Linked DNA regions of Homo sapiens. The protein of the gene in region 2 interacts with the protein of the main gene of each other region in a biochemical or structural test. Each region holds a gene or a part of one and is shown on either strand. Other genes may lie near its edges.

What was found.
Region 1: the proteins of APCS (region 2) and CERT1 interact in a biophysical measurement, tested with the Homo sapiens proteins (one study listed by IntAct).

What each region holds. Positions count from the first base shown.
Region 1 is NC_000005.10:75,410,443-75,414,273, forward strand, and holds part of CERT1 (ceramide transfer protein), read right to left. Parts: intron 662-3,831; coding exon 569-661; intron 1-568. UniProt on the Homo sapiens protein: Shelters ceramides and diacylglycerol lipids inside its START domain and mediates the intracellular trafficking of ceramides and diacylglycerol lipids in a non-vesicular manner.
Region 2 is NC_000001.11:159,586,654-159,589,657, reverse strand, and holds APCS (serum amyloid P-component precursor), read right to left. Parts: upstream 1,833-3,004; 5' UTR 1,737-1,832; coding exon 1,673-1,736; intron 1,558-1,672; coding exon 950-1,557; 3' UTR 793-949; downstream 1-792. UniProt on the Homo sapiens protein: Can interact with DNA and histones and may scavenge nuclear material released from damaged circulating cells. May also function as a calcium-dependent lectin.

The DNA.
Region 1 (3,831 bases), on a different chromosome or scaffold from region 2:
ACTAAAAATACAAAAAAATTAGCCAGGCGTGGTGGCGGGTGCCTGTAGTCCCAGCTACTAGGGCAGCTGAGGCAGGAGAATGGCGTGAACCCGGGAGGCGGAGCTTGCAGTGAGCCGAGATCGCGCCACTGCACTCCAGCCTGGGTGACACAGCGAGACTCGGTCTCAAAAAAAAAAAAAAGATCTCACAGTATAGTACAGACTAAAATCTTTTTGTCTGCAAAGTACTCAGATTTTTCCTTTATAGTTTGCTTTTATGTTAAAAAAAAAAAAAAAGTAGATAACATTAAAAATGATCATCTTTACAGGGGAGATAAAAATTTGTCCTATCAAGTGAACAGGCCTAATACTAAGCCTTTTGAAGCCTAAACTTTGTAGGCAATAAGAAATATATATTTGAGCATGCCTGGCATTTATATATCATGAAATATACACTGAATTAACATAAACACTGAGGAAAAAATTATATATTTAGAATATTTAAAGGTTACAAGAGTATTATTAAAAAATCACTTTTGTGATAGACATGATCTATGTGTTTCTCTAAGATCAAAATATAAATTCATACTTCATAATCTGGTCCTCCAAAGTGGGATTTTTTCTTAAGTTCTGTCATTGCATTTTTATATGCTTCCTCTGTTCTTCTTTTCTTCTCAGTTTCCTATTAAAAAGAAGTGAAAAATCTGTAATTTGAGGCAGGCATTTTAATTACAATGAAGTCTTTTAGGTGGAATTCCTCTACATTTCACTGAAATTTTACAATTTGACACAAAAAAATTCCACTCCTGTGAAAAATAAGAGTATTATTCTGCCCAAGAAAACACTTTTCTCTAGGCTATAAATTACTTACAACCTACTATTTATGTATGTATGTATGTATGTATTTTTTGAGACGGAGTCTTGCTCTGTCACCCAGGCTGGAGTGCAATGGCATGGTCTCGGCTCACTGCAACCTCCGCCTCCTGGGTTCAAGCAATTCTCCTGCCTCAGCCTCCCAAGTAGCTGGGATTACAGGCTTGTGCCATCACACCCAGCTAATTTTGGTATTTTTAGTAGAGATGGGGTTTCACTATGTTTGTCAGGCTTTTCTCGAACTCCTCACCTCGTGATCCACCCTCCTCAGCCTCCCAAAGTGCTGGGATTACAGGTGTGAGCCACTGCACCCGGCCACAACCTACGATTTAAATCACCACTAAAATCACCTTAAAAGTAGGTTATGTGTTTAAATGGTTAAGTAACTGCATGTATACTTAAAAAGAAAAGAAAAGAAAAAAACCCAGGTAAATTAGCACCTGAAAAATACCTACTATACATTCTTATACTTCCCCTTCCCACCAACCCCAGTTAAGAGATACATTTATTTTGGTATGAAGAAAAACAGCAAGTAATACCAGAAAAGAACTCAGTAGGTGGGATCAATGAATGCTAAAAAGATATTCTAAGAAAGAAAACCTTCTTATACTTTCTCACTGCTGCTTAAGACTGTATTTTAGCGTTGAAAAAGACTTTAGTTATGTATTTTAACACTCTCCTTTTAATGATAGGGCCTATAGCTCTAAAAGGTTAAAAGACCCAGGGTCAACACTTAAAATAACAAAGGTTGGTCCCATATAAAACTTATTTCCACAACAATGGGGTTCACTGGGTCAAAACTGATACTGGAGTCCAGTATGTTTGTAAATAATCTAATGCTTTTATTTCCTCATTTCAAATAGTCATACATGGCTTTTTTCTTTTCTTTCTTTTTTTTACCTTGTCCAAATTCCATTTTCTAAAAGACTGATTTGCTTGGTCCCCCTATTGGGTAATGTAAGCACCACACTTTTGAAAGCGAAAGGGAATGTTAGTAATAATCTTGCTGAATTAAGAACTGCCTTGGTCAAACCAGGATTCATGGTCACTCTGGCTACAGGAAATGTAAACAGCTCTTCCTATTTCCCCTTATTCCCAAAAAAACACTACTCTGAAGAGCGTGATCATCAAAAATCATAAGAGAACAGATTATGCTTGTGATCTAAAGAAGGCTAGTGAAAGCCACATGTATTTACTGTCACATGTTAGTTCACCATGGGGATACAGTCTGAGAAATGTGTCACTGACGACTTAATTCTTGTATAAACATCATAGAGTGTACTTATATAAACCTAGATGGTATAGCCTACTACACATCTAGGCTATAAACATTTACAACATATGACTGCACTGAATACTGAAGGCAATTTTAACATGATGGTTAAGTATTTGTGAATCTAAACATAGAAAAGGGACAGGAAAAATATGATATAAAAGATAAAAAACAGTATACTTGCACAGGGCACTTATGAATGGAGCTTGCAGGATTTGAAGTTCCTCAGGGTGAGTGAGTGAGTGAGTAGTCAATGAATGTGAAGGCGTAGGACATTACTGCACACCACTGTAAACTTTTAACACTGCATACTTAGGCTACACTACATTTATTTAAAAATGTTCTTCCTTCAATAACAACCTTAGCTTACTGTAACTTTTACTTTATAAACTTTTTAATTTTTTAAACTTTTTGAGTCTTTTGTAATAAGATATCTTAAAACATAAACATTGTACAGCAGCACAAAAATATTTTCTTTATACTGTATTCTACAAACATTTTTCTATTTTTTAAAAAATTTATTTTTTTTAACTTTTTAAACTTTTTTGTTATAAACTAAGAGACAACACACACATTAGCCTAGGCCTACACAGGGTCAGGATCATCAAGATGTCACTAGGCAAAAGGAATTATTCAGCTCCATTATCATGTTATGGGACCACAGTTGTATATGTGGTCCATCACTGACGGAAATGTCGTTATGCAGTGTATCACTGAACTTAATGGCTAAAGTCTAAACTGAACTCACACAAAGCAAACTACTTCTAAATACCACATCAGCGTTAAAGACAGTGGAAATCAATGAATCAATGGGTTCATTAGACCCAAAGATTTCATTAATTGATTTTTGTGTACTAAAGAGAAAATGGGACTACAGATCCACCAGAATGACTAAGCCAGGTGCAGTGGCATGTGCCTGTAGTCCTGGTCATTCAGGAGGCTGAGGCAGGAGGATCACCCGAGCCCTGGAGTTCAAGGCTGTAGTATACTAATGGCTGTGTCTGTGAATAGTCATTGCACTTCAGCCTGGACAACACAGTGAGACCCTGTCTCTCAAAAAAAGAAAGACTGTCCCCAAAATCAAACAACACCAACACCTATACACACACACACACACAGACGCACACACACACAATACCAAGTACAGTCAAGAGTGAACAACATCAACAACACCCACACACCCACACATCCCTAACAATACCAAAATGCTGTCAAGAATTAAAAATAATTGGAATCCTCACCCATTGCTGGTAGAAATAATCACTTTGGAAAATCATCAGTATCCACTAAAGTTAAGCATATACCCCTATGAATCAAGAAGTCTACTCCAAGGTATGAGAAATATACCTAAAGATATGCCCCAAGAACTCTCATAGCAGTTTCATTCATGATAGCCAAAAAATGAAAAAAATCTAAATGTCCACCAACAGGAAAATAGATAAGCAAATTGAAGTCATACAATAAAAAGTTATACAATAAAATAGTGTATAGCAATAAAAAAGAATAAACTACTATTAAATATAACAACATGAATGAATCTCACAGTCAAATGTTGAAGGAAAGAGAAGGCCTGACTCAAAAGTATACTGTATGATTCCATTTGTATGTTGTTCCAGAACAGGCAAAACTAATCTATAATGACATAGGTTAAAACCATATGATCACCTCTTGGGGTGGTGGTATGATATGGAATAGGAAGGAGCATG
Region 2 (3,004 bases):
TATTTTTCAGTGTGATAGTTAGGATGTGGCTTGCTCTGCTAAGAGTTGTATCTGAAATGTACATGGAAAGTCCATTTCAGAGAGTATTCTGTGTATACTCTCTGTGTACATTTCAGAGAGAGTAACTGGGACCAGGTTATAGAGGGCAATGTCATATTTAGAGGTTTAAATCATGTCCTGTAAGAAGTGTGAATCCATGGAAGAATTTTAGACAGCATATTCATGTGAGCAATATTCAGAGTATAATATTTTTTGATGACATCAAGAGAACATTATGAAAATCAAGCATTGTACAGTCCTACTGAGGTTTTTGAGACATAAAGTTATGTTTGTCTTCATACAAAATGATCCCAGTCTCATACTTTTTTGGTTTTCATTCTGACTTCTTCTAGTTTTATTCTTCCTGTCTTATTACTTGCTGTCAGGTTCTCAACTATTGCTTACTTATATCATTATAGTTGTCTACCTGATGCAACCTCAGACCCCTTTTTGATCGATTTGTAGCTGGAAAAACAAATAGGAGAATTGTGATTACAATTCCACACATATTTTGAATCGTCATTAAAATGATTGTTAGTAGCTTTTAAGTATTGCCACTGTTGTGCTCATTGAGTGCTCTGGCTTTGTGATATATCTTTCTAGTTACTTACAGGTTTTCCTCCCCGTACTTGGCAATTGGAGTTTTCAGGATAATGAAACACCAATTACCAATGAAACACCAATTAGTAGATAGATAAGTAGTAGACATAAGATAAAGATATGGGACTATGACAAGCACTAAACAAATGCAGGTAGCATAATACAATATATATTTTTTTAATTAGGCAGACATACAGATAGGAAATTCAAAGAAGAAAGAGCTGCAGATGTAAGATCTAGTATCCAGTTGCTTTGACCAGATCTCTTAGACAGTCATTTCATTTTCAAGTGCTCTCGTTGAGTCAAGACCTCAGACCCACACCAAGGGTTTGATGATGACATATCCTCTGATTTCATAGTTCAGAGCCTGCCAGTCCAGGATATTGGCAGGGAGAGGGGTACCCTGATAGGCAGACAGGATATTTTCTGGGGGCAGCACAGAGTCCCACATGTACAAATCCCCAATCTCTCCCACAAAGGACTGGCTCCTATCAAACTTGCCCCCATAGGAATCCTGTTCCTGCCCCAGGACAATCTTGGGCTGAGCTTCTACAAAGTAACCCTGTCGCAGACCCTTTTTCACCAAAGGTGTCCCATTGATCCAAAATTCAGCAATACCTGATGAGGACTCCCAGCTCACACAGATGTGCACTGGAGCCGGGAACTTTTCGATAACTTTGGATGTAACTTTGTGTCTTCCAATGTATAGACTATACTCTCCAACTCTTTCTTTATAAACTAGTAGCTCATTATCCCTGCCTTGGGTATTGTAGGAGAAGAGGCTGTAGGCACGAGAGAGATCACTATAGGCTCGAAAACACAAGGTAAAGTTCTGTAGAGGCTTCTCCAGCGGTGTGATCAAGTTTACATGATCAGTAACAGATTCTCTAGGAAATACAAACACCTTCCCACTGAGGTCTGCGGGATAAAGAAAGAAAGATAATGACCTTCAGTATAAATGCAGGGAAAAGATATCTCAGCTTCAACCTATTTTCTCACTTTATGATTCTTGACCATTCCTTCACCTCCTTACCTGTGTGAGCAAAGGCTTCCAGGAGGCTGGTGAGGACAGAGATCCAAAGCAGCGGCTTGTTCATATTCCTGGCCTAGGGCTGTTATAGCAGAAGCAGTGACCAGGATGAGGGTAGCAGACAACACAGTGGCTGTCCCCCTAGCGTCTGATATTCATGCCCTTAGACTTCAGGTTATTCAGGGTTTATATGCACCTTGGGTGAGGATGGGGGAGGAAGAGCACCAATAATATGTGAGTGATTTTCCAGGTCTGCCTCCTGGCGCTTACGGTGAAGGAGTGGTGAGCCCTGAGCTGGAAAATCAATGGGAGTTATTTATTAGAGACAAGTGATGGCTAGAGCTCCAACTCCTGTGACCCAGATTTTATTGCTGGGAAGAGAGTCATTGCAGGGCAGCAGGGTTATGGATGGGATGAGGCGCTGGGCTGGCCATGTCAGCAGAGCCTCTCTCTGCTCTCTGGGCCCCCTCTCTGATGGCTCTGTGCTCTGCCAGAAGCTCCTGAGCCACACAGAGTGTATCGCTGAGCTCAGCCCTCTTGTGGGCTATGGGAACAAGGCCTTTTCTTTCTTTTATAGTTCTCAAGTTGTCTTGTATTTGTAGGATATTCTAGGATTCTGCTTTCTGCTGAAGACCCTAAAAAGTGCCTTCAACTTTGACTAATTCAACATCAAGTAATACATCCAGGCAAAGCTAAGGGGAAAGAGGGACTTGGAGAATAAACTTTCTGTCCCCATGAAGCTTAGTATTTTTCTGCTACTTCTACTCAGTGCTTTTTTTTCGTTTGCATATCATGGTGCTTCCTTATCCTAGATCTTTCCATTTCTCATTACGACTTGTTTTCTGGTTACTTCATGCTACCTGCAGAGATGTCAGCATCTCCCCAAGTTTTTCTCTCCTCTTCTTTGAGTCCTTGGTCATTGAGTGTATATCTAATCCATCTTTGGTGATGACCCCACTAATACATTTATTCACTAGCTCTCAGTTACTACACTAGGTGCTGGGGATTCAGTGGTCACTGGCTCTCTCACAGCCCCAGAGATCTCCACCTTCATTCTTTCTATGTCTCCTTCATTCTCTCTCTGTACAGTTTATTAACCACCACTCAAACCTTCTCTGCCTCTGAGATATCAAACTGAAGTTCTTCTTTCTAGCCACATTATTTCTTTCTCTCTCATCCCTGAATTATATGGTGTCTTGTTTCTCATCCTACTGTTTAGCCTCTTGTTCACTCTCTCTTCTGTTAGCTCACCACAGACCTAATCAGCCTTTTCAATGACACAATCACTGCCACCAAGAATACACTTTCTCTATCATTGTTCAAAGTATCCTTCCT